Linked DNA regions of Homo sapiens. The protein of the gene in region 3 interacts with the protein of the main gene of each other region in a biochemical or structural test. Each region holds a gene or a part of one and is shown on either strand. Other genes may lie near its edges.

Region 1 (4,485 bases), on a different chromosome or scaffold from region 3:
GCCGCGGCTGGGAAGGGAGGCCATGCTGGGCCAGAAGAGCTCGGCACTCTTGTCAGTCTGTGTGCTGCTGTCCTTGCTGCCTGTCTTGGCGTGGGCACTGCTGGCTGCCGTAGTGGAGGCTATGGAGGACAGTGCTGAGGTGGGTGGGGGTGGCAGCAGTGGGGCAGAGGCATGCTCATGGTGCTCCTTCCCCAGCAGCAATCCTGAGGGCAGAGAACAGATTTTTCAACATTCTTTTTTTCCTTTTTTTTTTTTTAAATCTAGTCTTGCAGATCTGTTCCTTGTTGATTGATGATTGCTTCATTCATTCATTGATTCATTCCCCAAGCATTTAATAAACACTTATTACAAGGCTGATAAAATAACAAACACTGAGAGAATAAAAAATGGAAGACCTAGTCCCCTTCCTAAAAAATTGTAGGTTTTTTTTGTGTGTTTTTTTTGTTTTTTTTTTTTGGAGTGGAGAAGTAGTTGTCAAGTAAACTGATTATAACTTAATATATAAACTGTAGGATACAAATAAATTATTCACAGGGTGGTATGGACGAACAGAGAAGTGCCTAATTGCCAGCAGGAGGGGTAGGGAGGTTCCCACAAGGCTTTCCAGAGACCATGCTTGCTGTTACCAACGTGGCCCAGAAGGGCTGGCCTGAAGCGTGGCAGTGTGCTTAAGAAAAACTACAAGGCTTCCCCGGTCCTAGACATGTTCCCATTGGCTTGCTGCTCTTCTGAATAGTTCACAATTCCACCCCACTCCTTGTAATGGATGATGGTCCCCCACAGGCTTGGATTCAAAGATAAACATGCTACCTGCACATTTCTGCGGTGGAACTGTAGCCTCCCAGAAGCAGAAAGCCAGCCAGCCTCCTAGGAAAGGCCACTTAGCCCTCTCCTTACCCCCTTCCTCAAGAGTAGTGAGGCTGGGGTGGGGAAGAGGGGATGCTGGCTATGGAAATGGGAGGCGTGGTGTGCAGAGGTGTCCATTTTCCTCAGAGCCTTCCTGGAAAGCTGGGTGGGAGGATAACTTTTTATTTTTAAATACAGCACACACGCGGGAAAGTGCCAGCACCCTAGAATGCTAGCCTATAGAAAAGGCGGTAAGCGCAATCAAGTATTTGTTCTCTTATCTGGTTAGATAGCCAGCAATTCATAAAGTATCCTCGCCAGAGCTGTTTTAAGGTGCCCATTTAGAACTCAGGGCAGTTCAGTTTGTCGAGAGCAGTGCTTTTCAAAATGCAATGTGCATAACAATGACTTGGCTATACCGTTAAAAGGAAGACCTGATCCAGCAGGCAGGGCCTGGGATTCTGTATTTCTAAGAAGCTCCCAGATGGTGCTGGTGCCACTGGTCCACAGACCACGCTGAGCAGCAAAGGCCTTCACCTGCGCTTCCCACATCATCTCACTTCATACTGCATGTCATTCCTGCGAGACAGGCCTTATCCTGTCTTACGGAGAAGGAAATGGAAGCTCACAAAAACTAACATCTCACAGCTAAGAAGCAGCAGAAATGGGACTCAAACCCAACTGTGCCTGACTTGGAGTCCAACCTATGTTCTTTCCACTTCATCGCCCAGCCTGTGGAAACTCCAGAGTCTGCAGGATGTCCTCGTAGGGAGTGACAGGCTGAATAAGTCACTAGCCAGCCATAGCTCCTGGGATACCCTGGGCAATTGGGAAGGTATATGCTGTCACCTCCACCTCCTTCCAGAGCCTATCAGGCAAGCAATGGTGACAACATGTGGGGAACTGTGCAGTCACCCATGAACCTGCCTCAGCCCCTTGGAGAGTCCCTGTGTTTGTGACACGTGGACACCAATGACAACAATGAGGAGGAATATCAGTGCAGGGAACACAGCAGCTCTTCCTTCAAACAAGTCCTCCGGCTCCCAGGCCTGGTTTAGACATGCCAGGTCCTGGGGCATACGGGCACAGACACCAGAGATGCCTGCCTGGCTGCACGTCACAAACAGGGGACTCCCAGGGAGGTTGCTACCAGAGCTGAGCAAATTTTCAAACTCCTTGACCAGGCCTGGCTCAGCACTGCCTCCCAGCTCTCTAGCTGGGGTGGGAGCTAAATGTCCTTGGGACAGTCTTTGATGATCTCAGCTGCTGTCCACACACGTCTTCTTTGAAGTGCATTTCCTTTGGGGGCAGGGGCTGCTGAAGCCACCAGTGGAGGGACTTCAAACACAGATTCTGGTTGGGAGCCTTTGATCCCCCCAACTCTGTCGGGTTCATATGGAAGCTCTTATCCCCTCTGGCCCAGAGCAGCCAGTCTCCTTTGGGGTCTTATGCTGAGGACCACTGGCTCTCAGCTGCACAGAGAAACAAAAACACGATCTGATGTGGGGAAATGCATCAAAGAAGGGCCAGACCCCTGGAGAGGCCAGAGTGCAGGGGAAGGATGTGGAGGACCTGTGTCTGAGCACGCTGCCTGCTTCCCCTCCAGCTTGGCTAGCCCAGCCAGCCAACAAGCCTGCCTGCCCCCAAGAAACCTACTCCTGGCTAAGACCACACTTAGGGAATTCTGCCCATGCAACAACAATACAGCAAAAACTTACCACCCCTACCTTATGCGAGAGAGCACTTCTTCCAATGTGCTCTCCCCATTATCCCATTCTTCCCTCCCACGCCCCATGGGGTAAAGCAGGCAGACACTGTCCTCCCCCCATTATCCCATTCTTCCCTCCCACGCCCCATGGGGTAAAGCAGGCAGACACTCTCCTCCCACCATTATCCCATTCTTCCCTCCCACGCCCCATGGGGTAAAGCAGGCAGACACTCTCCTCCCCCCATTATCCCATTATTCCCTCCCACTCCCCATGGGGTAAAGCAGGCAGACACTGTCCTCCCTTTCCAGACGTGGAAGCAGAGGTGGAGCCGTCATACAACTGGTCTAGAGCAGAGCCAAGTTCAGAGGCGTGATGTCTCTAGGCTTTTCTATGAGAGCCTTTTGTGTTATAAGGGTCACCTCAACTTACAACAATAATAGATAATTCTGATCTGAGTCAACCCATGGCTAAGAGCTACTCCAGTGGTGCAGTCTTTAGAATTTACACAATGCTTCCACATATCTATAACTGAAGTATGACTGATTTCCCTCCCCACTTCACAGATGAGTAAACTGAGACCAGGAACTATTCAGGGACATTTCCGTGTCCCATGAGTGGCAGAGAAGCTGTCTGGTCTTGCTTTTCCAATCATGGTCTGACAGAGGTGTGGGGCTCACCTATGCTCCCCTTCCAGGTCTTCTCTTCCTTCTTTTCCTCAGCCAGCTGGCTGCTGGTAAGAGAGGTCTGGCGAGAGTGTGTCCCAGTAGCTGCTGCTATGGATGGAACGGAGCGGGCAGGACGTAGGCTGGAGGAGTCTGTCTTCCCGGCATCTTTACGAGATCGCTGCTGCAGGACCTTAATCATAGCATCTTTCTCTATGATTTTGGCATGGAGATTTTTAATACTGTAAAACAAAACAAAACAGTCTCCATAAAAAGCCACTTGGCTAGAAAAACTTGAAACATTTATCTCAGGCTGTCCCAAAGACTTTAATTGTAATTTAGGGATACAGGATGAAGCACAGTACGAGTCTTCAAATGTTGATAATCTCCAAATTGTTAAGACAGGTCTTTTGTCATATGTCAAAAGAGTACACCTTCTCTGGCACCTTGGGAGACTGGGACTTCAGCGAGGTACAGTTAGAATGACCGTGGCCACATTCCTGGACCGAAGTCGGCTGGGGACCATATTTAGAGGGTCTAGCATTGGCGGTGGGGGCCGGGGGTAGGTAGGGGATAGGGAAGCATAAAAACTCTAAAGCCTCAAACAGGGTGAGCTTTCAGCTAAAGTCAATTTCTCTATTTTCTAAGAAAAAAGAACCAAGATGAACAGGTTCTCTGGTAGAAGATGATTTTTCTGGAAGAATGCTGAGTTATTTTCACAACTTTGATAGTAACTCACTGAGCCTATCTATCAATGGCTCAACTACTCAGCCCTATTTTCACATCTGCAAAATAAGAGGCCTAGGGCTCCCAGGGTTCCACAAGCCCTTAGGTAGTGAAGGGGGACAGGCTAGTTTTATTATGTCAAAAAGTCTGCTGGAAATTTTGTGTAGCCCATCAGAAGAGTGCATTAGCTAAATATGTTCTTTATTTTGGACTGGAATATATAAATTCTGGCTCAAAAACTCTGAATCTTTGGGATATAATGTTTCCCCCTTTCAGCTCATAATGTCATAGAGATAGACACCAAGAAATAACACAGACATCTAAATTCTTCTGTCACTAGACTCAGCCTGCATCTTAAAACCGGCAGGTGACACGCAATTTCCCCCAGAGAACTCCGGCACCAGATCCATTGCTGAGTGGAACCACGTGCTTAGGTTGGAACCTTTTCCTTCTCTCCATGGCACAGCATGGGGGAGGAGAGTTTTTGGAGACCTCATGCTCACAGCCTTTCAGAACAGGACAGAGAAGCAATCTGTTCTGGA
Region 2 (4,485 bases), on a different chromosome or scaffold from region 3:
TGAGGTGGTCTTGGTGGTGGTGGTTACCAAGTTTGTGGTAGGAGTTTTGGCTGTTTCTGCGGTTGAGACCAAGGAAGAGGTGGGTGGAAGAGAGGTGGCAGTAGATGATGTCTCTGTCATAGTGGTGGGATAGGTGATTTCAGTTGTGGACTCTGTGACAGTGCTTGTGGGAGAACTAGGGTAGGCGGTCTCAGATGTAAGTGTAGACCTGGTGATGGTAATGGGGAGTGTAGTCACCAACGTGGATACAGGATTGGTGTTTGTGGTATGACTGGTGGTCACCTCTGTGCTTGGGACAGGTGTAGAAGATAAAATGCTACTGGTGAGTGGTGATAACGTATTAGTGGCTGTGGGCCAAGAGGTCGTAGTTCTCATAGAAGTCATTGTATCGGTGGGAGTGATTGAAGAAGTGATGGGGGGAGTAGAAGTCATGGCTGTTGTGAGAGATTCTGTAGAAAAGTCAGTTGTAGGAGTCAGTGTGGTGGTCTCAAGGAATGTGGCTGTAGAGCTGGGGAAGGTGGTCTGACCTGTGCCTGTAGTCGCTACAGTGGTTGAAGGTGGTTCCATCGTTGGGGATGTGGTGAATGAGGTGGTGGTAGTGGGTGCCAGGGCGGATTCAGCTGTTGTGTGGATTGTATTGGTGCTGGCTGGAAGTGAGGAAATAGTCTCTGTGTGAGTGGTCCCTGCACTGCTGGCAGACATGGAAGATGAAAATGAATATGTACTTGGGAAGGTCGTCAGGAGGGAACTTGTTAGAGTGCTGTCAGTACTTGTGATAGTTGGTCTCAAACTGGGAGTGGTGGCAGAGGTCATGCTGACAAGGGATGAGGTTTCTGTATTCTGGATGCTGGGGGAAGATGGAATGACACTTGTGGACATTGCTGAGGAACTGGAAACAGTGAATGTTGATGTGAGGTCTGTTGCTGTAGTCAGGAAACCGGTAGAGCCCACAGAAGGGTAGGTGATAGTTGTTGGTGTTGTGGAAGGGGTGTCTGTACTCAGAGAAGATGGGGTCATGGTTGTGGAAGTTACCATGGTACCTGAGGTAGGGGAAGCTGAGGAGATGGCAGTTGTGGATGTGCTGACTGTGGAGTAGATGGTTGAAGAAGTGAAGCTGGGGGTACTAAGGGAGGTGGTATTAGGGGTGGTGGTTATCAAGGTTGTGGTAGGAGTCATCGTGGCTGTTTCTGTGGTTGGGAGAGAGGAAGAGGTGGGTGGGAGAGTAGTGGCAGTGGACAATGTACCTGTTATACTTGTGGAATAGGTGATTTCAGTCGTGGAGTCTGAGACAATGCTGGTGGGAGAAGTAGGGTAGGTGGTCTCAGATGTAGGTGTAGATCTGGTGATGGTAGTGAGGAGTGTAGTCACCAAGGTGGATAGAGGGGTGGTGTTTGTGGTATGACTGGTGATCATTTCTGTGCTTGGGACAGGTGTAGAAGATAAAATGCTACTGGTGAGTGGTGATAATGTATTAGTGGCTGTGGGCCAATAGGTTGTAGTTCTCATAGAAGTCATTGTATTGGTGGGAGTGATTGAAGAACTGACGGGGGGAGGAGAAGTCATGGCTGTTGTGAGAGATACTGTAGAAATGTCAGTTGTAGGAGTCAGTGTAGTGGTCTCAGGGAATGTGGCTGTAGAGCTGGGAAAGGTGGTCTGACCTCTGCCTGTAGTTGATACAGTGGATGAAGGTGGTTCCATCATTGTGGATGTGGTAAATGAGGTGGTGGTAGTGGGTGATGGGGTGGATTCAACTGTTGTGTGGAGTGTACTGGTGGTGCCTCGAGGTGAGGAGATACTCTCTGTGTGAGTGGTCCCAGCACTACTTTCAGACATAGAAGAAGAGAATGAATGTGTCATTGGAAAGCTTGTCAGGAGGGACCTTGTTGGAGTGTTCTCAGTACTTGTGAAAGTTGGTCCTCCACTGGGAGTGGTAGCAGACGTCATGCTAACAGAGATTGAGATTTCTGTATTCTGGACAGTGGGAGATGAGGGAATGACAGTTGTTGGCCTTGCAGACATGTTAGAGACTGTGTACACTGAGGTGAGGTCTGTCATCATAGGTAATGAACCACTGATGCCCACGGATGAGGGAGTGATGGTTGTTGGTTGTGAGGTAGGGATACCTGTACTCACAGTAGATGAGATCATGGATGTAGAAGTTACCATGGTACCCAACGTAGTGGGAACTGAGGTGATGGCAGTTGTGTATGTGCTGGCTGTGGAGTAGACGGTTGAAGAAGTGAAGCTGGTGGTACTATGTGAGGTGGTCTTGGTGGTGGTGGTTACCAAGTTTGTGGTAGGAGTTTTGGCTGTTTTTGCAGTTGAGACCAAGGGAGAGGTGGGTGGAAGAGAGGTGGCAGTGGATGATGTCTCTGTCATAGTGGTGGGATAGGTGATTTCCGTCGTGGAGTTTGTACCAGGACCAGTCGGAGAATTAGGATAGGTGGTCTCAGATGTAGTCATAGATGAAGCATTTGGAGTGGGGAGTGTGGTCACCAAGATAGATGGAGGGATTGTGTTTATGGTGCCACTGGTGACTACTTCTGTGCTTGGGACAGGTGTAGAAGACAGAGGCATACTGGTCAGTGATGTAAAAGAATTGGTGGTTGTGGGAGGAGAGGTCGTAGTTGTCATAGAAGTCACTGTATTTGTGGAAGTGACTGATGAAGTGATGGGAGGAGAAGTCATGGCTGTTGTGAGAGATTCTGTGGACATGTCAGTTGTAGGAGTCGGTGTGGTGGTCTCAGGAAATGTGGCTGTAGAGCTGGTGAAGGTGGTCTGACCTGTTCCTGTAGTTGCTGCAGTGGTTGAAGGTGGTTCCATAGTTGTGGAAGTTGTGAATGAGGTGGTGGTAGTGGGTGCCAGGGTGGATTCAGCTGTTGTGTGGAGTGTACTGGTGCTGGCTGGAGGTGAGGAGATACTCTCTGTGTGAGTGGTCCCAGCACTGCTGGCAGACATGGAAGATGAAAATGAATATGTTGCTGGGAAGGTCGTCAGGAGGGAACTTGTAGGAGTGCTGAGTGTACTTACAAAAGTTGGTCTCACATTGGGAGTAGTGGCAGAGGTCATGCTGACAAGGGATGAGGTTTCTGTATTCTGAATGCTGGGGGAAGATGGAATGACACTCGTGGACATTGCTGAGGAACTGGAAACCGTGAATGTTGATGTGAGGTCTGTTGCTGTAGTCAGGAAACCGGTAGAGCCCACAGAATGGTGGGTGATAGTTGTTGGTGTTGTGAAAGGGATGTCTGTACTCAGAGAAGATGGGGTCATGGTTGTGGAAGTCACCATAGTACCTGAGGTAGGGGGAAGTGAGGAGATGGCAGTTGTGGATGTGCTGACTGTGGAGTAGATGGTTGATGAAGAGAAGCTGGGAGTACTGTGGGAGGAGATCTCAGTGGTGGTGGTTACCAAGTTTGTCATAGGAGTCGTGGCTGTTTCTGTGGTTGGGAGAGAGGAAGAGGTGGGTGGGAGAGAAGTCTCTGTGGACAATGTACCTGTCATACTTGTGGAGTAGGCGATTTTGGTAGTGGAGTCTGTGACAGTGCTGGTGGGAGAAGTAGTGTAGGTGGTCTCAGATGTAGGTGTAGACCTGCTGATGGTAGTGGGGAGTGTGGTCACCAAGGTGGATAGGGGGGTGGTGTTTGTGATACCACTGGTGATTGTTTCTGTGCTCAGGACAGGTGTGGAAGATAAAATGGTCCTAGTGGGTGATGACAATGTATTAGTGGCTGTGGGCTGGGAGGCGGTCGTTGTCATAGAAGTCACTGTATTTGTGGAAGTGATTGAAGAAGTGATGGGGGAAGTGGAAGTCACTGCTGTTTTGAGAGTAGTAAATACTGGGGTTGGGGACGTGGTTGTATGGATGCTTCCAGTGGGCAGGGGAGTCCTTTCTGTGGTTCTAGTTGTAGACGAGATTGTAGTGTGGAAGGTTGTGTCTGTGGCTGACACAGAGGAGGGTGTCACTGTCACTATGGGAGTTTCCCTTGCAGTGGTGGTAGAGGGAGAAGATGTCATGGCTGACGTTCCTTTCTCAGTAGTGGTCATAGAGTAAGTACTGGTGACGGTGGTCACTGGCTTCTGTGTCACGGGAGTCGAGGTGTAAGAGCTGGTGAAGGCCACCTGCGTCGTGGTCACACAGATGGAGGTGGGGTGGGAGATGGTGATTATAAAGCTCGTTGGATACACGCACTCAGTGGTGGCTGAATAGACCAACACGGTGGGTGGAGTGGTTTCAACCTTGAAGGCAAACTTGGACGTCGGGGTGGTTGAGGTGTTGGAACTGACTGGAGAGTTGAGCAATGTTTCAGAGATGAGTGTGTCATGGGGGGAGGTAGTGAGTGTCATAGGTGCATTTTCCCTGTGGCCAGGAGCAGGAGAGGCGAGCTGGGGGACACCAAGTGGCCACCCAGCCAGGTCTCTGGAGTGTGGAGAATTGCTGAGCACAGCGCTGGCTGCTTCTGCTCTGGGGAAAGGCACTTGAGA
Region 3 (4,485 bases):
GATCCGCCCGCCTCGGCCTCCCAAAGTGCTGGAATTACAGGCGTGAGCCACTGCGCCCGGCCTGCATGGTAGATATTAATTATTGACCCATTTCACAGCTGAGAAAGGAGATCAAGGAGGGGAAAATGACTTGTGCAACTGTCCCACTAAGAAAACTCTGCCTGCTGTCTAATTCTAATTTTTTTTTTTAAGGCAGGGTCTCACTCTGTCACCCAGGCTGGAGTGCAGTGGCATGATCATAGCTCACTGCAGCCTCCACCTCCCAGGCTCAAGCAATCCTTCTGCCTCAGCTGCCCGAGCAGCTGGGACTTCAGGTGCATGCCACTGTGCCCAGCTAATTTTTGTATTTTTTCATAGAGACCAGGTTTTCCCACGTTGCCCAGGCTGGTCTCGAACTCCTGGGCTCAAGCCATCCTCCTGCCTTAGCCTCCCAAAGTGTTGGGATTACAGGCATGAGCCACCGTGCCTGGTCTAATTCTCTATACCAAAATTTCTCTGTTTATCTGAACGGTACAGTTTCTGTCTCTCGACTGGACCCTGACTGACACTGGTGATGGTAACAATGACAATTATTATTCTGATGGCTGCCTTCCAGGGATGAGCACTTAGTATACACGATGGCTCACCCTCGTCAATAAGAGCTGGCGTTATTCCCATTTCAGGAAGAAGGATGGAGCCTCAAAGAGGGGGAGGGACTTGTTTGCTCCCCACCCCCATCTGCCTGTGGGGCCAGGGCTTCTTCCCCATCAGCTGCACGAGGGCCTGGGAGTCAGAGGATTGGTTGTGAGGCCTGTGTCGCAGAGCAGGAGACAGGAGCACGTGGGGAGAGAAGTGCCGGCACCATGTTGGTTCGGTTTGACAAACACTGAGTCTTCCCTGGGCTCCAGGCATACTGCTGGCTGCCACAAGGCGGCACGTGGCCACCCGCCAAATCCCCAGCACTGCAAGTTCTGCCGAGGCAGAGGGGGCTGAGGGCTGTTTTGGAAGACTTCCTGGAGGAAGGGGGCTGACAGACCAGCTCTGTCATGCTAGCGCCTGTCTCTCTAAGTACCCCCACCAGCTGCCCTTCAAGGGCAGGAAGCATCAAGAAACAGGTGGGGAGATTGAGGCTTTCCATGGGGCTGACCTGCCCAGGATCATCTGCAGCTCAGGTGGCTAAAGTACCAGAGGTCATGACATTGAAAGACCCGGCTCTTGCCAACCAGCTGCCACGAGCCCCCCTGCCTGCTCCGTACCTCTCCTCTCCTAGGAACTCCAGAAGTGGGGGTGTTCTTCCCATCTCCCTTCAGCACTCCCTTCCTGCTCAGGGACCCAGGTTGTCAGGACCCCCAAGGTCCTGAATTGCTAAAACTCCCATCCCACTGTCATTCCCTTCAGGGGCCACGGGGGCTGCACGTTGGCCTTTCCCCTGTGCCCTGCCGTGCCGCCACGTGGCACCTGCACACACCACTGGCTGAATGCAGACACAGGGGAACTGAGGACCCACAGCCCCCTTTCCTCTGGCTTTCTGCACAGGCTGTGCCCCCACCCTGGAGCACCCCTTTCTCCTCTTTTCTACTCCTGCTCATCTTAACACTGGGGGCACCTCCTCCAGGAAGCCACCTTCACCCCCAGCCACTCCATCCCAAGCCCAGTCCCAGATGTGGGCTCCCGCAGGGATCTGGATTCCCTGTGACTTTGCTCTGAGCACTCTGGACTGTAGCAGCAAACTATGTTGTCTGCCCTCTGCTAGGCCATGAGCTCAACACTTTGTCCCCAGCACCCAGCTCCAGGCCTGATACAGAGGAGCTCAGTAAATATCTGTTGGATGGATGGATGGATGGATGGATGGATGGATGGAGGAATGAATGGAGGAATGACTGGATGAAAGGGTGGAAATAGTGAAGAAGTGGAGGGTGCAGAGATGCAGTCAAGAGGAGTGTCTGAGCTTGGCCCTGGGGGAGGCGGCTATCGGGGATGTGAGGGGCCTGGGGTGGCCGCTGCTAGGCAGACCTTGTTGTAGAGGGCGCAGATGTGCAGAGCCGTGTTCCCCGAGGCGTTCTGGGCTCCAGGCTCAGCCCCGTAGAAAAGCAGATGCTCCAGGTGCTGAGAGTGACCCCGCTGGCAGGCCTGGGCAGGACAGGGAGCGAGGGGCATGGATCAGACCCAGGCTGTTCTCCCTCTGGGCCAAGAGTCTGTCTATGACCTGTGCACTGGCCTTCTCATCCTATCGTTCACCGCATCCACCTCCCCATCACCTTTTAGCCCCGCTTCCTGCTCTGGGACCCAGGCTGTCAGCCTCAAAACCCAAATGTTCAGTCATTCCAAGGCCCAGGCGTCTGGTCTGCCTCCTTAAGGGGGTCAAGAGGACAGCCCATCCCTCTCAGGGGTCAAGGCATCAGGTTCCCCAGCCTATGCCCCCTTAGGGTCTTTCTGCCTTCACCCCCACCATTTCCTCTTTGGGGACCATGTTATTCTCACCCCCATGCTCTGTGAGGACCCTGGCATCTGGTTCCCAGCCCCAGCCCCTTGGATGCCTCAGGGACTGGGTCCCCCACCCCAGCCCTTCATGGCCTGAATCAGGAGCACCTGGTGGATTTCCTGCCAGCCGTTCTCATCAGCTATGCCCAGCTGGGCCCTGTTGAACAGGAGCAGCTCGCAGCATCGGGGGTCACCACCCACCATGGCCGTGTGGAACAGAGGGGTCAGCCCCCGACGGTCCTTGTAGTTGGGGGAACCCCCAAGGTCCAGGAGCGCCTAGGAACGGAGAGAGAACCCAGTAGAAAAACACAGATGACAGTCACACATTAACCAGCTCATTCTGAAGGGCCAGGGGGACTGGACCGTCCTGGGTGACCTACAGTGGCCAATGACAGTCTCAGTTCTGCCGTGATGCCCTTGTGCAACCTTGAGCCTGGCCCTTTCCCTCCCTGGGCCACTCTGATTCCGTGTGAACAATGTGGGACTTGGGTAGATGCCTCCAGAGGACACTTGCACTCTGACATCCCACCCAGCCTTCCCCCTGGGGGCGATCTTGGATGAGCCATTGAAAGACATTAGGGGCCACAGTACCCACCCATTCCACTTCCTACAGGTGGGTTGTTGGGGACAAGTGAGAGGACAGAGTCTGGATGCTGGAGGGTCTCTGACCAAGTGGGAGGTGTTATTAGGTCCAGGATCTCAAAGAAGGGGCACAGCAGGAAGCCAGGGGACAGGTAAGCTTGGGTAAGGGCAAGGATCGGGCCGGCCTCACTGGGGCTGGAGGCCACTTCCTGCCCCCACTTGAAGGACAGCTCTGGGTGTGGAAGGCTGGCAATAATGAACATTAATAGGAGAAAGTCTTGGCAGCAACCTCGTGTGAGGACAGCCTGTAGCAGTGCCACCCAACAGAACGTTTCCCCCATCATGGGGATGGTCTGCAACTGCACCACCCTATATGGCAGGCACGTGTGGGCCCCTGAGCACTTGAACGTGGCTAGTGAGCCTGAGGAACTGAAATTTTAATTTTACTTCATTCTATTTAATTTAAATTTAAACAGCCCCAGGTGGCCAGTGGCTACTGGCTTGGATAGCGCAGGTCTGGAGGCTGGGAGGGGCGTGTGTGAGCAGGATGTGGGTTTGGGGGTGAGTGTGCATGGGAGATACATGAAGAGGATCTGTTAACTCCAGGGGTATACTGCAGATCTTTGTGGCTGGCATCTGACTGCATTAGGGGCTCTTCAGGAAAGCATCTGAGGGAGAGAAGGGAGGGGCCGTTTAGCTGGAGCAGCTGTGCGTCGGGGTGCTTCTCAATGGCTGTCTTTGGGGGCAGCCCATCCTGACCCTCATGTGAAGAGCAATCAGGTGTCCTGGCGGGGGCAGGGGGAGAAGAGTATTTTAAAATTAGACTGTGCAGCTGCCGCTGTGTATGTATTTTGTGGGTGTATGGGTTTGTCTATTTGGGAAAGTGCATTTGAGGCTGTGTACGTGGGGAAGGGGCTGTATTTGCATGTGAGAGAGGAGGGAGGGGAGCTGGTGCAGTGCTGGTTTGGAAGGGTAGCTGGGGGGCTGTTTTCAGGGTGTGTGTGGAGGGGCTCTATCTGGGGGCATAGCAGGGAGCTCACTTCGTATTTTAAGGAATGAGAAGGGTTTACACCTTGGGGAGACAGAGGCAGATTTGGTATTAAGCTGGGCCACAGGGGATGGAGACGTTCTGGGTGTTTAGGGGAGGAGGCCGTGCCCGGGTCTGTGTGATGTCAGCTATAGCCCAGGTGGGTGCATCTGGGGGGCCTGACAAGGGTGACAATAGGGGCTGTGTCTCAGTCTATGGAAAGGGGCTTTGAACTGGGGACATGAGAGGGCCTATTTTTAACTGAAACCAAAGAACTGAGGTTTGAGAAAGAACAAAGGGAAAAGGAGAGAGGGCCCCATGGCGGGGATGGGGGGTCCCCGAAGCCTCACCGTGAGTGCCAGGCAGTGTCGGGCGCATGCGGCCTTATGCAGTGCGGTCATGCCATCCCGGGCCCG
Region 4 (4,485 bases), on a different chromosome or scaffold from region 3:
CTATACATTTCTCCTCTGAACAGCCTCCTCAATGTGTCCACTCCTTTTTATTTCTCCTGCTACTACTTTCTTCTGGTTCTTACTTCAAGCTACAAAGCTACAGCTATTGTAATAGCAATAGCCTTTTAACTGATATGTCTCTAGTTGATTTTTTTTTTCCCTCTAACCCACCTTGTTCCCTGATGCAAGAATTATCTTTAATCACAGCTTTGATGATTCTACTACTTGAAGAAAAAAATACCTCATTTGCATTATCTGGCTTACTTCAATTTTAACTGCTCAGCCCAACATTTAAAAAGTCTCCACAACAAAATGCAAATATTACTGTGGGAACACTTGCTGTATGTTTACTGTCCACCAGGCTTCACACTAGACAGTTGGTATGCATTACTTCATTTAAGTGCCACAGAGTTGGTGGTCATCACCCGCTTTCTCAGATGAGAAAAATGGAAGTAAGGGAAAAATCTGCCCCATATCCAGAAGCTAGTTAGTTGCAGAGAAAGAGTCAATGCCTGATCAGTTTTGACTAAAAAAAATTCTCTCCTAAACCATCTATCTACTACCCAGCAAGCCAGGGTTGAAACAGATTTCTAACCTTTTCAATGAAATCAGGTAACTGAGTGTACTGTGGCAAGAAGAAAGCTGTATATGGCCTGTGTGCCACAAAAGCCCATCACTATTCAGCTGAACTATACAACCAGATATTCCCCTCCCCAGTATGACCTGCATATTCTCATCTCCTTTCCTCTGCTGTGGTTTCCCCACCTCGAAGTTCTCATTTCATACCAAAATCTATCTTAAATGCCACATCCCTACAGTGTGATCTCTCACCCAAAAACTTTGTACCAATTTATTATATGCTGCCTTCAGTTATTTATTTATATATTTGTCTCTTAAACTAATTGTAAAGTGTTCATTAATACTGGCTTATAATCCACATGTAAGCAAATTAAAAGTATATCTTAAACATTTACTTTAATATTTTAAATATTATAATTTCAAATGAGTTCCAATTTTCCCAACTTGCTCTTAACCAGTATTTTTTTTTAACCAGTTCTCTACTTCTTTAATGAAATTAAAGAAACTAAAATAATTTCACCACCTTTAATAACAAATAAACATCAGGGAAATTATATGTGAACATGTAATAACAAAATTAAAGCTACTGATCTGTAAAAGGACAGTAAGAAAAATTAGTATTCAAAATGACAGGAGATATTTAAATACGACACTGCAGCAGCATAAACATGATAAATCTCATTTTGATATAAATGGGGAATTTCCAAGATCCAGCTTTTATGCTTTGCTATTCTAAAAATTACTTCATAATTCTCTTATCACATTCAGAGTCCAGTAACCACAATGAGCGTTGAAGATCTAAACTTGAGGCCAGGTGCAGTGACTCACGTCTGTAATCCCAGCACTTTGGGAGGCCGACACAGGCAGATTACTTGAGGTCAGGAGTTCAAGACCAGCCTGGCCAACATGGTGAAACCCTGACTCTACTAAAAATACAAAAATTAGCCAGGCGTGGTGGCAGGTGCCTGTAATCCCAGTTACTTGGGAGGCTGAGGCAGGAGAATCCCTTGAACCCAGGGGCGGAGGGTGAAGTGAGCTGAGATCGCGCCACTGCACTCCAGCCTGGGTGATACAGGGAAACTCCACCTTAAACAAATAAAAAAAAAAAAAAAAAGAAAGAAAGAAAGACATAAACTTGATTTTCTTCCCAGGAGGCTTTTCAAGATTCTGCATATTAAATAACAAGTAAATCGACTTCTAAAAATAAACATCAAAGTATACTTCATTAAACATACCAGATTGAATGTAATGAGCTTATTTTCCCTATAACAAAATGCTAAGAAATAAGAGAAGCTAGAGTGTGAAAATGGCAGAATAGCAGGGGCAAATATCTGGATACCATAAAATATGCTAAAAAACTCTGAGGTCCTATCAAATGCCTGATGTTCACAAAAAGACAACAACAATAACAACACAGTAGATACTCCATAAAGCAACTATAGTCAGCAATTTATTCATCCAAGCATTTTACTCTTACTTTTTCAGAATTATCTCAGATGCACCCTTGCTGAATATTCGATAACTTCCATCTGAATTTTTCAGGACAGTACTCATGGACTTCCTAACAGAATTGAAGGTGTAGACTTTGTACAGTGCTTCTTCTGGTATTTCATTTCTAACATCCTGATAATCCCGTTTTAAATCCAAAAGAAGTCCCAACAAGGCACATTCAGTTTTATTACCAACGTGACGAGGTAATCCACCCTCTTTCTCTGGTGGCTATAAGAGAAAAACATTTAGTAGCTAGTATCTCGTTTCTCTAAGAACGTTTAATTTATAATGTAAAACAGACTGCGATATTCTAAAATAAAATTACAAAGCAATTGTCTAATATCAACATTTTAAAGAAGGATATAGAAAAGTAAGGTAGAAAGGAGCCTGGGGTGAGAATGACATGGATTCTAATCTCAGTCCTGCCAGTTACTAGCTACGTGAAATTTGACAATTACCCAACTGCTTTGGTCCTTGGCTTCAGCATCTGTAAAATAGGAGCACTTATGACCCCAAAATTAAGTGATATAAGATGTATGAAGTTTATAGTTGGTTCCTAATACAGAGTGGAACTTAATTTTAATTTCCTTTTCCTGTTTTCACTTAACTTTTATACTAAATCATTCAAAATTAAATCTACCAATTTTTATGGCTTAAAAGTACATTCATTAAAATACTGTTCTCTTAAATGCAGTGAGAAGCTTCAATTCCTTCATAGTGCCTTCAGAAATACCACTTTACATAATTATCACAATGGTATTAAGGGCAGATGTGATCATCTTTACTCAGTAATTAAAGAAGGTAGCTCAGACTTTCAGCTAGTAAAAGGCAAAGCTAGATCTAGAACCAAGATCCCATAACTTTCCAATGTAATCATCCAATTCATGTATGTTTTCCCTAATGAACAGCTTGCAATATTATTTTTGTTAATGATTTTCATCCATAAATCACTAGAAGAGATTAAGTCAAACATAACATCGCATTCTTTCTGTTATAAATAAGATTTTTAAAACTTGTAAGTTGAAAATTTTTTATTATATGGTGGCACAAGTCTAGAATTACTTTACTGCATTAGTTCTAAAAAGGTCTAAGGACCACCTTTTAGGTAGGAACTACTGAGAAACCAAACAGAACACATGGCAACCATATATAAAACATGTTATTTTAAGTTGAAATCGGCTTAAAAATTTTCTGTAAGTTGAGAGCTGACCTCCTATAGTAAGACAGTTTGATCTTTCTCAAAAATGAGCTTAACAAGAATTTAAAATTAAATACATGCTCTGGTTATAAGGCTGGAGAGTTTCTGAACACAGGAAATTCAAAATATAGGAGAAAAATGTAAGCAAACAATGTTTATGTTGATCAGCAGACCTCACTCATAACACAAATTTAAAAACCATTATATAAATAAATATATGCCTTTTAAAAACTTAACAGTTCAGTTTACATACAGTAATGGTGGTCTGAAGACTTACATATAGTCTGATCATTATAGATTTAAAAATTAATTTTCATAAATTATTTCAAAAACCTTACCAATATTTTTGATGTATAAGCACAATTCACAGAAATTCCTGTTACAAGATAGGACAAAATATTTGGTGGAATAGCTTCTGGTTCAGGAACCTTTTTATAATGTTTTTCATTTATGTAAGCTTGAACGACTGTCATTCTGTTCATTGTCAAAGTTCCTGTTTTATCTGAACAAATAGCTGTAGCATTTCCCATGGTTTCACAAGCATCCAGATGCCTTACTAAGTTATTATCTTTCATCATTTTCTACAGTGACCAAAAAAAAAAAACTAGTTAAGCTGCATATAAAACCAATCACCTCATTACATTAAAATGATTATAAATTGTTTTAAAATTAGAAAACTCCCAGCTTTCTATAAATACAATGTATAAAGTACCAATGTAATACTGAAATTTTTTTTTTTTTAGCATATTTGACCTATTAAAATAAGCTAAACACAGTACCAGAGCTTTCTGGGGTTTCAATCATTTTATTGCTGCATAACATAACCTAGTGAATCAATTCAGGTACCTACATCCGTACACAAATAATACTGAATATATGTCTCCAACGGTTTTTGCAAAATGTCCTCACATTGCAAGAGCAATGACAATCTGTACTGTTAAGTACAGTGGTACTTATAGTAGTGTAAGAGTATATTAAAGGATTAAGCCTCCTTATTAAGTGGAAAACAAAAGATTCTTACATCAGTGCCAAGGAAAAAATAGCCTTTAGCAGCTAAAATAAAGAGCTTGTGGGTATGTAGTTGCTTGATTTTTTTTTATTATTAACTCTGATAGAGTTAACATATCAAAACTAGAATGAGTCATTTTTTAGCTATTCTATATGCTGGCAGACTTGGCATTTTCATCCTTAGCATCAAACTGCATCTCACTTCTTTC
Region 5 (4,574 bases), on a different chromosome or scaffold from region 3:
GCCTTCATCAATCTGCCTGGCTAGGAATTCTGAGGCTCTCTCCTACCTTTCCTGTGGATTCACCTGCTCCACAACCCCTGTTCCCACTTGCAGCAGGGGATTCTTAAAAGTTATATGCCTTATCTCAATCCCACAAAGCCAGGCCAGGTGCTGACAGCTTCCTGTTTGTTTCCCCTGGGGTGGTGTCCTGAAGTACTCAAGTTTGTGTACCTTGCTTCAATTCCACAATCAAGCCATCTGTCTCTATATTTGATGCTTGCAGTTGCCATCCAATGTGGCATGCTTGGGAAGCCAGCCTCAGGGAGATGGGGGTGAGGTGCACAGAGAATTTGGGGTGGCCATGGGTCATGTGGGAGGTCCATATGCAAGGTATCCCAGTGGCTGGTGAGGCTTCCTGATGGAGTCTGTGGAGTGCTGAGTAGGTTTCAGAGCCTTTCTTCCCTGCTCCCAGCCTTTCCCAACGCTTAGCTATGACAGTCACCTCAATATTTTAATTGGAGCAAGAAAGAGGTAGGGTTCTTAGGCAGCATCCCACACAGCTAGGGGCTGAGCACTCTCACTATGCTATCACCTTCTCCCATGGGAGAAATTGTGGACTGAGGGGAGTCTCTCTTGCCACTAAGCTGTGCCAACTTCAAAGAGTGATGCAGATAAAGTGAAAATCTTCTTCTTCCTTTTCTTTAATGCATTTATTCTCAGATATTTCTGCTCCAATGGTGTGCTGGAACTTCCACGTAGGACTTCTGGATTCCTACAAAAGAACTACCATCTGAAAGTACTGGTAAAAATCAATGCTTCTGTGGAAGAATGATGATATAAAGCTCCTATTCTGCCATCTTGCTAACATCACTCTCTAAAGTTACTTTTAAAGGAATAAAATATTTTAGTATCTATTTTAGCCCTGACCCTGGTAGACTTTGTTTCCTCATTTTATGTTCCATGCACTACCTCATTCCCTCTTTGCCCATTCTGAAATTTTATAATCCCTTTAAACTCCCCATGTGTACCTAAGCATCAGAATTTTTCAAAAAGTCACAGAAAATTAACATAAAAAAATAAATTTATTTTGAGTCTGAAATACTGAAGAACAAGCATACAGATAAATAGTACAAAGAACAAAAATTAGAACATGAGTAATGACTTAAGACACAGGCATTTTTCTAGCTATTGCATACAGACACATTTTTACACACAAACATATTTTTTAAAGACATCTCTCCAACATTCTCAAAAGGCAAGAGCTGTATTTGTGACATTTGTAATAAATGCAACAGCTTTTGAAACATCCAGTTTCTTTCCTAAGTCATTTGATTAAAATTCACACAAGTGATGATTACCTATTCCATTTTCTGAAAATACGACATACAGTCATGTTTCGATCAACAATTGACCACATATGACAGAGATCCTATAAGATTATAATGGAACTGAAAAATTCCTATCACCTAGTGATGCCACAGCCATTGTTACATTGTAGCACAATGTATTATCTGTTCTATGTTTAGATTACACAGATACCATTGTGTTACAGTTGCCTACAGTATTCAATACAGTACCATGCTGTACAGGTCTGTAGCCCAGAAGCGACAGACTTTGCCATCTAGCCCAGGTGTGCAGTAGGCTCTACCACCTAGGTTTGTGTAAGTACACTTCATGATGTTCACACAATGATGAAATCACCTAATGACAAATTTCTCAGAATGTAGCTCTGTCATGAAGTCACACATTACTGTAGAATTATAACATTCTTGCTTGACATATTACAGACAACTTTCACTCAAAATACAGAAAAATTATCAATTCATTTTGCATTGTCACATATTCCATCACCTTTCTAATCAACAAGGAAAAATAAACATAACATATATGTATATGCTTTTCAGAAATAAAGTATTCTAAATTTTATGTGTAATTTGTTCCAAACCTCAGGAACTCAACAAGTACATGATTATTTTAAACAACATTGATAGTTTAAAAATAAAAACATTTGGGGAGAGACCTTAAAATATATTTTTGGCCGTTTTTACCTGTAATGTAAATATCAAAGGAAGCTAATGATTGGACATACTCTGCTTGAGTTACCCTCAACTGACTAAAAAGGCTAAAAAGAAATGTAAAAGTCCGTTGTATCCATAAGGTAGCAATCACATTTGTTTATCCAATTGTCCAGGGAATTTTTCTCTGGCTGGATTCAAGTTCCTGTGATACAATAATTTGGTCTATTCCATGATTAATGGCATTTAATATTTTGGAAAGATCTTTGAGATCAAATTGAACACATTCATTTCATGGATGAGGAAAACGCTGCCCAGAGAGGTTTAATGATTTGTCCAGAGTTATAGGAACATACAGAAATACATCCAGGACATGGACACAGAGTTCCTGATTCTTAGTCAAATTCTTTAGATAACACATTCCCCAGGGTCAGATTCGACATAATTTACAGTCACTTGATTATAGAGAATGTTATAATTTCAATATATATCAATGCATATATTCTGCCTGATATAGTTGGGATACTTGTCCCTCCAATCTCACATTGAAATGTAATCCCCAATGTTGAAGGTTGGCCCTAATAGAAGGTGTTTGGGTCCTGCGGGTGGATCCCTCATGGCTTGGTGCTGTCCTTGCAGTAATGAGTGAGTTTTCACAAAATCTGGTTGTTTGAAGGTGTGTGGCACCTCCCTGCTCTCTTGCTCCTGCTTCGCCATGTGACATCTCTGCTCCCACTTAGCCTTTCACCATGAGTAAAGCTCCCTGAGGGCTCCCCAGAAGCCGAGCAGACACTGGTGCCATGCTTACACAGCCTGCAGAACTGTGAGCCACTTAAACCTCTTTTATTTATAAATTACCCAGTCTCAGGTATTTCTGTTCTTTTTTTCCTGAAACAGAGTCTCGCTCTGTCACCCAGGCTGGAGTGCAGTGGCGCAATCTCAGCTCACTGTAGCCTCCGCCTTCCAGGTTCAGGCAATTCTCATGCCTCAGCTTCCCAAGAAGCTGGGACTACAGGCGTGTGCCACCATGCCCGGCTAATTTGTGTGTGTGTGTGTGTGTGTATGTATTTTTAGTAGAGATGGGGTTTTGCCATGTTGGCCAGACTGGTCTTCAACTCCTGGCCTCAAATGATCCACCCACCTCAGCCTCCCAAAGTGCTGGGACTATAGGTGTGAGCCATCGTGCTCAACCTCAGGTTTTATTTATTTATTTATTTATTTATTTATTTATTTATTTATTTATTTGAGACAGTCTCACTTTATCTCCCAGGCTGGAGTGCAGTAGTGTGATTTTCGCTCACTGCAACCTCTGCCATTCGCATTCAAGCGATTCTCCTGCCTCAGCCTCCTGAGTAGCTGGGATTACAGGCGCCTGCCACTGCGCTAATTTTTGTATTTTTAGTAGAGATGGGGTTTCACCATCTTGGCCAGGCTGGTTTTGAACTCCTGACTTTGTGATCCACCTGCCTTGGCCTCCCAAAGTGCTGAGATTACAGGCATGAGCCACAGCACTGCGCCTGGCCTTTTTTTTTTTTTTTTTTTTTTTTTTTTTTTTTAGTAGAGATGGGGTTTTACCATGTTGGCCAGGCTGGTCTTGAACTCCTGACCTCAGGTGATCCACACGCTTCAGCCTCCCAAAGTGCTGGGATTACAGGCGTGAGCCACCACGCCCAGCCTAAATATTTCTTTATAGCAATGCAAGGATGGCCTAACACACTGCCTAAATCAAAATTGCTATTCACTTCAAGGGTATTCATTACCTGACTAGCTTTTTTGGGTGCATATGAACATAATGTAAATTTTATGGCTGATCAAATGTCATTACTATGAAGATACTCCCTATGAGCTCACAGAGTCAGGACATCAACAATATTTAAACTCTCACTGTAAACATGACACAGTGGTAGGCACTGTGGAAATATATTTGGTCCTATTTTCCCTACCTGAGCATGTAAAAGAGCAGACTATTCTAACAGTGTGATGACTCTGCAGTGAAGAAAAGAATCCACTCTCCCGGCACACTGATAGAGCATGTACCTGGGCATAGTATTCCTCAAAGGAGAATGGTCATAAAAATGATACTGCAGAATTCAAATAGCATTCAAGAGGTCTCCACTAAATGGGGACATGTAGGCTATCTGAAGTTATTATAGATTTCCTTATTTCAGGAATCTTCAAGGCAAAATATACGATGTGATACATGAAATCATGAAATAGCCAGTAACATACATGATGAAATTATCTTACTAGAAAGTTACACATCAGGAAAAAAAAAAAAAGAGAGTTTAAAAGAAAAAAAAGGCAATGGGTACAAAACTACTCTATCTCAAGTTGGAGTGAAAAAATACAGCGTTAGCATTTATCCATGATAGAAAGGCAGCACAGAAAAGAACTCAAGACAGAATGAACCTGTAACCAGGCTCCTTAATTAGAACATAATTCTAAGACCAAAGTCTGGGTAGAATCTGTACACAGAATAGTTTTTATAGCCATTGACTGCATGTGTTAAAAAGTACTTTGTAACAAGAGTACAATAAATGGGAAAAATCTTAGAGGTCATCTGAAAGCCTGATCCCAATG
Region 6 (4,248 bases), on a different chromosome or scaffold from region 3:
CTATAGGGAGGCCATTTCCTGTCCTGGAATTAGTTTTTCTAAAATGTGAATAAACTTGTTTTATAAAAAGCAGGCTTGGCTGTGTCTTCCCTACCATGAGACTGTAAAACGCTCAGGGTGCATAGTAGGGAGGTGGTTGGGGATTGACAACCTATTCTGGATGACCCAGGCCTCTCTTCCCACCACAAACACCATCTGGCCTCCATGGGCCATGCCACCCACCCCAGGAGGGGACACCTGGGTTCCATCTGCAGCCTGAACTGTCGGGGCTGAGACAACTCCTGATTGGACTCCTACTTGGGGAGGGAAGCATAGAAAAGGAGGGTAGGTTCCAGCTGCCTGTGGTCACCCCCGCACCAGCTTCTCCCATGTTAAAGGGCATGGGCCTCCAGGGGCAGTGCCTTTTCTGAGCTTCCCAGACTTTCCCCAACTCTTCCCACGTCTCATTCTCCTGGTCAGGCTAGTCTTGGACCTGACTCCTCCCACTAGGCCCTGGGGCTGAAATTGTTGTTCCTTCTGACCCATAGCAGCAGAATAGAAGCCTCAGAACACAACTGATACTCAGGCTGGGACAACAGGCAGTCAGGGGAGGGCCTGTGTGTCCACAGAGCCATTGCACCCACATGTACTCGCTGTACCTGCATATACCCTCTACCCGCATATACCCACTACACCTGCATATACCCGCTTCACCTGCCTGTACCTACCCTGGGGTCTCCTCCCTCCCACCCTTCAGCTTCACCCCTCCTCCAGTGCCCCAGGAGTTTCATGAATTTTCTTGCCTAAGGATTCTCTGATCCTAAAATTCTTACCTGCACGGCACCTTAAGAGGCATCTGGCAGGCCTCCTTCAGTTGTTATTTAAACATTTATTGAGCATTACGAGTTTGCTGTCATTTTTACAGATGAGGAAACTGAGGCCCAGATATGCGATTTGCCCAGAGTCATAGAGCTAATTAGCAAGTGTCAGGAGTAGGACCTAGGTCTCCTGACTTGTTGCACTGTACAGTGGTGCCCTGAGTGGTGACAGTGGCGAGGAGAGGTGTGGCAGGGTCTCAGTGACTTCAGCAGGCAGGAGGGGCCTTTCCAGACTGAGTTTCTCTGCTTGTTCAGCTGCAATGGGTTGGCTCCTGTGTGAGTGCGTGTGTGTGGATACCAAGTAGCCCACCCGCTCTTGTCCAGACCCCCCTGTTTTACTGAAACCCAAATGAATCCCCATTCTCCATCCCAACATCTGTTCTTAGGGGACCAGTCAATGCCAGGCTTCAGGAATCTCATCTTTGATGACAGGGCCCCAGTGGCCCTGTGACCTGAGGCAAAGATATCCGTGTTTTGACTGAAAGGAAGGGACTGGGACTTGGGTCCTCTCTGAGTGAACCCCAGCTGTCTGGGCTGCTTCCATGGCCCCCTTTCTTGCTTCCAGAGGACCCATAGGGCCCTGGCTATGCCCATAGGACCCTGGCTGTGCCCCATAGGACCCTATCTGCCCAGCCTGGAACAGAGAAGACTGGAGTGCTTTCCCCAGGGGGCTTATGAAAGGGCAGGAGTGGGATGTGGCCAGGGCCAAGGGAGGAGGTCCTTGCTGGGCCAGTGCTGCTGTGTGGGAGACAGGCGCTGTCCCAGGGCAGGCTCTCCTGGGCCTATGCTTTTCTCCAGGCCAGCTTCAGGTCCCTTCCACCCCTCTGCCTCTCTCAACTTGCAGTTGTTCTCCCTCACTATCCAGGAAGCTGCCGCTGGTGACTGGGATGTGATCAGGAAGCAGGTGGAGGTGGGGTGAGAATATGCGTCTTTGGGACCCCCTGGCCCAATTGGGCTGACAGCAGGCTGCAGACACATCCAGATGTTCTAACTCCTATCGCTTCTCTCCGATTTTCTCCCACATTCAATCTTGCCTCCAGTCCTACAAGGGGTTCTGTCCTTTGCCCCTAAAACTCTTCCTGCTCCACCTCCCCCCGACCTCCCCAGGAGCCCCCTCAAGTCCTTCTGATGGCTTCATCTCTCTGTCGGGCCTGCTCAGCTTCCAGACACCCCCTCCACTTGTCACTGCCCTGTTTCCATTGATGGTTGAGTTTCTGGGCCCAAAGTTAAACTCTTCAGCCTGGGCTTCGGGTCCCTTTCCCACACATAAAACCCCACCCTTCACATTTCTCTGTCTGCTCCTGTGAGGATCCTCAGCTTCTTCTCAGCTTCTCTTCATCTTCCTCTCAGCTACTCCTCAGTTTCTATGCCCCATGTCCTGAAACGACTTCCAAGTATTCACTTAGAGCACAGGTTCTCAAAGTGTGGTCCTCAGTCCAGCAACAGCAGCATGACCTGGGGACTTCTTAGGAATGCATGGTTTTGGTCCCCACCTCTTGGGTCAGAAACCCTTGGAGTGGAGCCCAAAAATCTGTGTTTTACCAAGCCCTCCAGGTGATTCCAACGCACACTGGAGATTTCTAACTCCTGACTTACATATTCCCTATGCCTTACACTGGCCCCAGCCTTCTGATCACCCACACTCCCCTACCCTCCACGGGACTGCACAGGTTGTCAGTTTGAATTATCCCTCGTTCAGTCACCACAGGTAGATTCCTCTGTTTTCCCAGGTGCCCCTTATTTTGAGGACAGGAACCAGGTTTTTGAATGTCCACTCCACATGGCACCCAATCAGTGATGTGAATGACTGTGCCCCAAGGACACACTGCTTTCCTAGGGGCTCCCTGTTTCCCAGCTCTAGTGAACCCACTTTCTAGATCTCTCTCCTGGCCCTTCCTCCCCAGAACCTCTCTCTCTCTCTTCCTGCCTGTGCCTGATACCTGTAAGATCTCACTCCACTGTAAGAAAATAGCTATCCCTGGTTTTCCTTTCCCAGGCCCCTCTCCAGGCCCCAGCTCAGGCACCTCCCCGCTCTGCCTGCTTCCCTGAACTTGCGGACTAAGGTCATTCACACCTTGCTGAGCCCCTTGCACGCCTTCATCCTGGTGAGGGTGGAGCTAGGAGGGCACCCTCCTCATGTGCCCATCTTGGTCCGGCTCCTTTCTCCTTCACTTCAGCTTGGCCTACCGTGTCATTAGACAGTTGTGCCATATGTGGGGAGGCTGGCAGAAGAGGTGACTGGGGACTGCAATCCATCCTATACTCTGCTCCCCAAGCCATGCACCCTGGTTTGGGGCTGTATCTGTCTGGAGGAAAAGGGTTCCTTTTTAAAATTTGCACAGGGGTGTTCTACAGGTTAGTGGCAGCCCTGAGTGGACCAGTTGTCTACTGGTCCATCTATGTATCTGTCAGCTGTCTTTATCTGCTACCATCTTCCCATCCAACCCCCAAAAGTCCATCATTCTGTCCATCCATCCACTCATGAACAAATGTGAAGGTCAAACACAGACTGGCATTTTCACCCGGCCCCACCCTCCATTTCCCTGAAATCAGGACCCCTCCCTTCCATACTGGTTTCTAGACTTGAGGTTCTGGGGGACGGGGACTTTCCAACTTTAGCACATTTCCAGGGGCTTTGCCTTCCTCCTCCTCCTCCTCCTCCACCACCTCCGATATGCAGTTCCCCATGTATCTGTGTCTGGCCCCCGGTCTGCCACAGGGGTCTGGAGGAAGCTGGTCACACCTTGGACTCACTCTCTGGGGGTGGCAGGCAGCCATTCTGCTCCTTGTCAGCCCCAGCTTCCCCACCCGCCCCCTCCCCCGCCCCCTCCTCCTCCACCTTCTCATCCAGCCGGCTGGGGATGGACCAGTAGAGATGGGCATCAAGGCGGGCGGCAGCCTCTGCCAGCTCTCGAGCACTGCACGAAGGTGTGGGCACCTCAAAAGTCTCGTGAAAGCTGGCATAGTCCACTTCGTAGAAGCCGTCCTCCAGAGTCAGCACTGACGTGAAGCGGTGGCCCCACAGCACCTCGTCTACCAGGTAGGAGCTCCGAGCTTGGCATGTCATTCCTGGGAGGAGGGGCACCGGTCAGGGGGAATCTCAGCTCCAGGCTTCCCTCTCCTCTTCTCATTCCACAACCCTACTCCCAGCACCCTCCCTTCTATTCCTTCCTAAGGGCTCCCACCTCCCTTTGGTCCAGTCCATTTCCCCCCCTCCCTAGCTCCTGTTCTTACCCAGCTCCCTCGTGTCTTCTCCATTTGCCCCAACTCCTCTTAATGTCCAGCTCTTTTTTCCCCTCCTGTCATTTGGTGATGCCAACCAAAAAAAGCTTAACCTTGAAACTAACCTTAGGGATCCTCTAGTCCAACTTCTCACTCCATACAGGGCTCC
Region 7 (4,485 bases), on a different chromosome or scaffold from region 3:
CAAGGACTATAAGAGTTTATCCCAACCTACCTTGCCTGCCCCATTTCTAAACTATTTCTCTTCACACATACAATAGGCAGCAGGACAACCCAACTCTTACTACTTGCTGTTTTTCTGCACTTAACCTACGCACATCTCTATGCTCAGATTACCTTCTAGAAAGCACTTTACTCCATTACCACTAAGCATTTGACTAAACTGATCACTCCTTTCTTCTTGTAACTCTTCACTTGGCTCTAGGGATGTCACATTCTGCTAGTTTCCTTCTGTCTCACCAGCTTATCCCTGTCAGTCTCCTCTGCCAGCTCCTCCTTTTCATTCTAACCACTAAATGTTGGGAAAGCTCCAGGCTCAATCCTTTTACCTCTTTAGCTATACTCACCAAGTATAGATGATCTCATCCAATTCTATAGCTTTAAATATATGATGGTATCTCTCATTTATGGAGAGAACAGAGAGCCTTCTACCTTGTAATTATCTGTGTAAACCTGAGCCTCTACCCCTTTCAAGGTCCACACAAATGTTACTTCTTTTCCAAAGTATTTAACGATCTGCTCTGTTCTTCCAGCCCACACGACCAACCAAAGTAAAAAAAAAAAAAAAAAATCCTCTCCTCTTCTCTCCTTCTAACCTGCCAAAACACTATTAATCCTTTCTTTCCATTGCATTGATCCACTTCTTACCTATTATTTATGCTTACACTATCCCCATTGCTAGGATATAATATCACCAAGAGCAAAGCACATCTCCTATATCTCTGAATTCTCCACCACACAGTCAAAAGGTGCAGTAACTTACTATGTCAGCAGATGCTCAACAAAAAAATACTTAAAAATCATTACTTAACGCATTACATTAAAAACAAACAAACAAACAAAAAACACTGAGATCTCCATGTGAGTAAAGTTTAGTTTAGGAAACCATAAAAACCTTGTTAATTGAGCCTCTGGCAATAGTTTTTTTAATGCTATAATAAATTATGGAATTTAAAATCAGTTTGTCCTTTTCATTCTTACCTAGCTCCTGAGGAGCCAATATTTGCATTATTTGTTGTTACTGTTGTTAAATTTTAATACATCTAATTTAGTCTCAACTTCTACTAAAAATTGAATCTAAAAATAAGTTAAATTTCCTTAGAGATGATGGAAGACACTGATGTCAAACAGGCCTGTGAAGAGTCTGAATAAATGTTCTTCATGAAATGTGAGAATGGGAAAAAAAGAAATTTTTAAAAATAGCTTATTTTCTATACATGTGATTCTGCATATGTGTTTTAAATTAAATTAAAAATTATAAGAAAAAAGTGACAATAAGTTAAACCTACCAGCTGTCCTGCTTTGTATATCTTTCCATCCCATTCTATTGCTGCATATGTTGCCCAGGGACCTTGCTTTTTAGAAGGAAGATCAGGACGTGTAATTACTCCCTTAAAAAGTGTAAATTTTATTTGTTTATCATACTTCTCATGACAGTCCTTCAGCCACAAAGCAAATTCTCTGTCAATTTTCATTCGCTGTTCCTGTAGAATTTTAAAATGTTTTATGAAATATAGCTACTAGCAAACAAATATAACCATAAACATTTGTCATTCATTTTATTTTTTTCCTTTCATATACTCCAATTCAGAAAACCTAATAAAAAATTAAATATTCTGCTGGATCCTTCCTCTGTACACATTTAGGATATTTCAAACAAATGCATTACCAAAGAAGAAAAATTTGATATTATTCTTAGAACCAAGGTATCCCTGGTCAATATCAACAATAAAACCTTCCTTTCCGCCTTTAATTCCTAGGATACACTAAAAACTGATGAACCCTTACTGCCTGGGAGGAGAACTAGCTAGCTCCACAAAAGGGATGAGTGGAGGCCTTCTAACTGTAAACCACATTCTCAATGGGACGATAAAAATCTCATTGTGTATCAAGTACTTTATAAACGTGAATACAATATACAAACAGATAGATGGTAAATCTGCAGTAGTAAAATTTCATTGGGGAAAACAATTGAGAAAAAGATGCCAAGAAAGACTCCTTATGAGGGTGATAACGAAAAAAGGTTGAGAAACACTGCTATGCAAAATGTACTTTTCTTTTTAATTTTCTCTTTTATATATAGAGCCTATCCAAAAAATAAACTCATAAAACTGAAGTGTTTTCTAATAATACTTAAGAAGATGTGTTTTTGCCAACCATTCTTCACCCTGTTGGGAGAGAATACAGAAATCTGTATTCAAGCATAAGGTGCTATACACTTGTTTGATGCCTGCCTCTAGGGCAATGAGGAGGTAAGACAATCTCCCCATTACATGCTTTCGCAGAGGACAGTCTGTAAAGTTACAGAACTCCATTCCTTCTTACGTACCTTATACCATAATATACCATTTCCAAAGGAAAGTAAGGCAAAATTAAAAATAATTTCAGCCTAAGTTTTTGATGCTTGCTGTCAAGAAGGATACTATCTTAGTTATTAATAAATTTGATTTTTTTAAAGTTATATGAATGAAAAAGGAAATATATATACATGGTAAAGACTCACAGGTCCAATATGGTATACAGTTTCTGGGAAATTGCTGCCACACTTACTCCTATAACTAGGTACCAACTCTTTCCCAAATCAGCAAATCATTGTTGTCAGTTTGCCAGCTGACATGGAGATTAAATTAGTAACTAGGAACCAGAAAGTCTGACAACCAAAATGTTAAACTACCCTTCTAAAACTCTCAGGATGGATTCACTATCAACCAAACAAATTACCAAATGCATTAATTCCAGACACTCAGTAACAGTCAAAGTACAATTCAGAAGGCATGTCAAGGTGACAGGTAACCTAGGGGAAAAGTATGCAGATATTCACTTTATAATATTCTTTCAACTTTTCTGTGTATTTGAACATTTCCTTCTTTTTTTTTTTTTTTTAAATACAGAAGGTGTCTCACTGTATTGCACACGCTGGTCTTGAACTCCTGGCCTCAAGCCATCCTCCTGCCTCAGCCTCTCAAGTAGCCAAGATTACAGGTGTGAACCATTATGCGCAGCTTGAATGTTTCAAAATTAGAAAATATATATTTTAAAAGTACAGTGTAACAAAGGAATAGAATTAACTTATTCTGGATAGCTTTTGAAAACACCCACTGCTCAATAAATGTTGGATAACTAACACCATATTATAAATGAATTCTAAGTGTATTATAAAGGAGTAGTAACTCATTTTGATAAGGTCTTTCTCGGTGTATAATTCTTAAAAGTGTCCTAATCTTCTATGATTCACAAGCTTTATAAGAGCAAAATTAATTTCAACATCTTACAGGACTGACTGACTACAAATACTATGTACTATGCACTGTATTTATTGCCCAGCAATAAATTGATAATAAAATCATCTATTTCTTGGCAATTCAACATTAAACTACTGAAAGAGTAGTATCAAAAGTCTCTGAGGTCTGTTCACAGAATACAAGTACACTAGTATACTAGTTTCACTCAACTTTGTAACAAATTTCAAAGTGAAATCATTCTTGTTGTATTAATCAATACATGTATTTTAATACTGATCAATCTCAAATCACCTTTTAGCTCAAAGTACTTCACAGTTTTACCCCATTTTTACCCTCAAGACTAGCTAAAAATTGCACAACTAGGTTATTAATATACAAATATAGCCCTTAAAGCAAATACAATTGTTCATACATGTTCTCATTAAGATGCTTCTGTGGCTTCTACTATGTCAAGGGCTAGATATTAAGATCTTGGCTGGGTGCGATGGCTCATGCCTGTAATCCCAACATTTTGGGAGACCAAGGCAAGTCGATCACCTGAGGTCAGGAGTTCGAGACCAGCCAGGCCAACATGGTGAAACCCCATCTCTACTAAAAATACAAAAATTAGCCAGGCGTGGTGGCACGCACCTGTAGTCCCAGTTATTTGGGAGGCTGAGGCGGGAGAATAGCTTGAACCTGGGAGGCAGAGGTTGCAGTGAGCTGAGATTGAGCCACTGCAATCCAGCCTGGGAAACAGAGTGAAACTCCTGTCTTAAAAAAAAAAAAACAAAAAAAACTAATGAAGATATGTAAATTCTATCCAAACCTAGTCTTTACTAGGTAGGTTTAGTCATTACTAAAAAATTAGCTTTAAATTTTTTAGTAATGTGAACACTTGACTGCTCATAAAAAAATTTATACATCATAGTCTTTTGATGCAAAATATCAATAAAAACCTACACTGCTAGTGTCTTCTTTTACTTAAAAATAAAACATTTGCAAATATTCACAACTTTATATTTAAAAATCATACCTGTCCATTTAAAATCCTTGTAAAAAGGGTGTTCTTATCTTTCAATTTTAGCTCAAGATCCATAAACGTCAATTTATTTGTGCTGACCTGGAATTTGTCATTAGTGAATAATGCACCAGATATCCTATTGTAGCATTCAATTGGTGCAAGCCCTCTCTTCTTAGGAGGAGTACACCAGTCAAAGCTTGAACAG

The links.
Region 1: the proteins of SHANK1 (region 3) and AMOTL1 interact in a test that uses a peptide from one of them, tested with the Homo sapiens proteins (one large-scale study listed by IntAct).
Region 2: the proteins of SHANK1 (region 3) and MUC3A interact in a test that uses a peptide from one of them, tested with the Homo sapiens proteins (one large-scale study listed by IntAct).
Region 4: the proteins of SHANK1 (region 3) and ATP2B1 interact in a test that uses a peptide from one of them, tested with the Homo sapiens proteins (one large-scale study listed by IntAct).
Region 5: the proteins of SHANK1 (region 3) and FLVCR1 interact in a test that uses a peptide from one of them, tested with the Homo sapiens proteins (one large-scale study listed by IntAct).
Region 6: the proteins of SHANK1 (region 3) and KCNJ9 interact in a test that uses a peptide from one of them, tested with the Homo sapiens proteins (one large-scale study listed by IntAct).
Region 7: the proteins of SHANK1 (region 3) and SMCHD1 interact in a test that uses a peptide from one of them, tested with the Homo sapiens proteins (one large-scale study listed by IntAct).

What each region holds. Positions count from the first base shown.
Region 1 is NC_000011.10:94,864,916-94,869,400, reverse strand, and holds part of AMOTL1 (angiomotin-like protein 1), read right to left. Parts: intron 3,460-4,485; coding exon 3,233-3,459; intron 204-3,232; coding exon 1-203. UniProt on the Homo sapiens protein: Inhibits the Wnt/beta-catenin signaling pathway, probably by recruiting CTNNB1 to recycling endosomes and hence preventing its translocation to the nucleus.
Region 2 is NC_000007.14:100,951,867-100,956,351, reverse strand, and holds part of MUC3A (mucin-3A precursor), read right to left. Parts: coding exon 1-4,485.
Region 3 is NC_000019.10:50,709,379-50,713,863, forward strand, and holds part of SHANK1 (SH3 and multiple ankyrin repeat domains protein 1), read right to left. Parts: coding exon 4,420-4,485; intron 2,737-4,419; coding exon 2,569-2,736; intron 2,110-2,568; coding exon 1,993-2,109; intron 1-1,992. UniProt on the Homo sapiens protein: Seems to be an adapter protein in the postsynaptic density (PSD) of excitatory synapses that interconnects receptors of the postsynaptic membrane including NMDA-type and metabotropic glutamate receptors via complexes with GKAP/PSD-95 and Homer, respectively, and the actin-based cytoskeleton.
Region 4 is NC_000012.12:89,617,943-89,622,427, forward strand, and holds part of ATP2B1 (plasma membrane calcium-transporting ATPase 1), read right to left. Parts: intron 3,850-4,485; coding exon 3,607-3,849; intron 2,299-3,606; coding exon 2,057-2,298; intron 1-2,056. UniProt on the Homo sapiens protein: Catalyzes the hydrolysis of ATP coupled with the transport of calcium from the cytoplasm to the extracellular space thereby maintaining intracellular calcium homeostasis.
Region 5 is NC_000001.11:212,895,832-212,900,405, reverse strand, and holds the end of FLVCR1 (choline/ethanolamine transporter FLVCR1), read right to left. Parts: 3' UTR 1,043-4,574; downstream 1-1,042.
Region 6 is NC_000001.11:160,087,164-160,091,411, reverse strand, and holds the end of KCNJ9 (G protein-activated inward rectifier potassium channel 3), read right to left. Parts: intron 3,927-4,248; coding exon 3,595-3,926; 3' UTR 849-3,594; downstream 1-848. UniProt on the Homo sapiens protein: Inward rectifier potassium channels are characterized by a greater tendency to allow potassium to flow into the cell rather than out of it.
Region 7 is NC_000018.10:2,700,726-2,705,210, reverse strand, and holds part of SMCHD1 (structural maintenance of chromosomes flexible hinge domain-containing protein 1), read right to left. Parts: intron 4,477-4,485; coding exon 4,293-4,476; intron 1,520-4,292; coding exon 1,325-1,519; intron 1-1,324. UniProt on the Homo sapiens protein: Non-canonical member of the structural maintenance of chromosomes (SMC) protein family that plays a key role in epigenetic silencing by regulating chromatin architecture.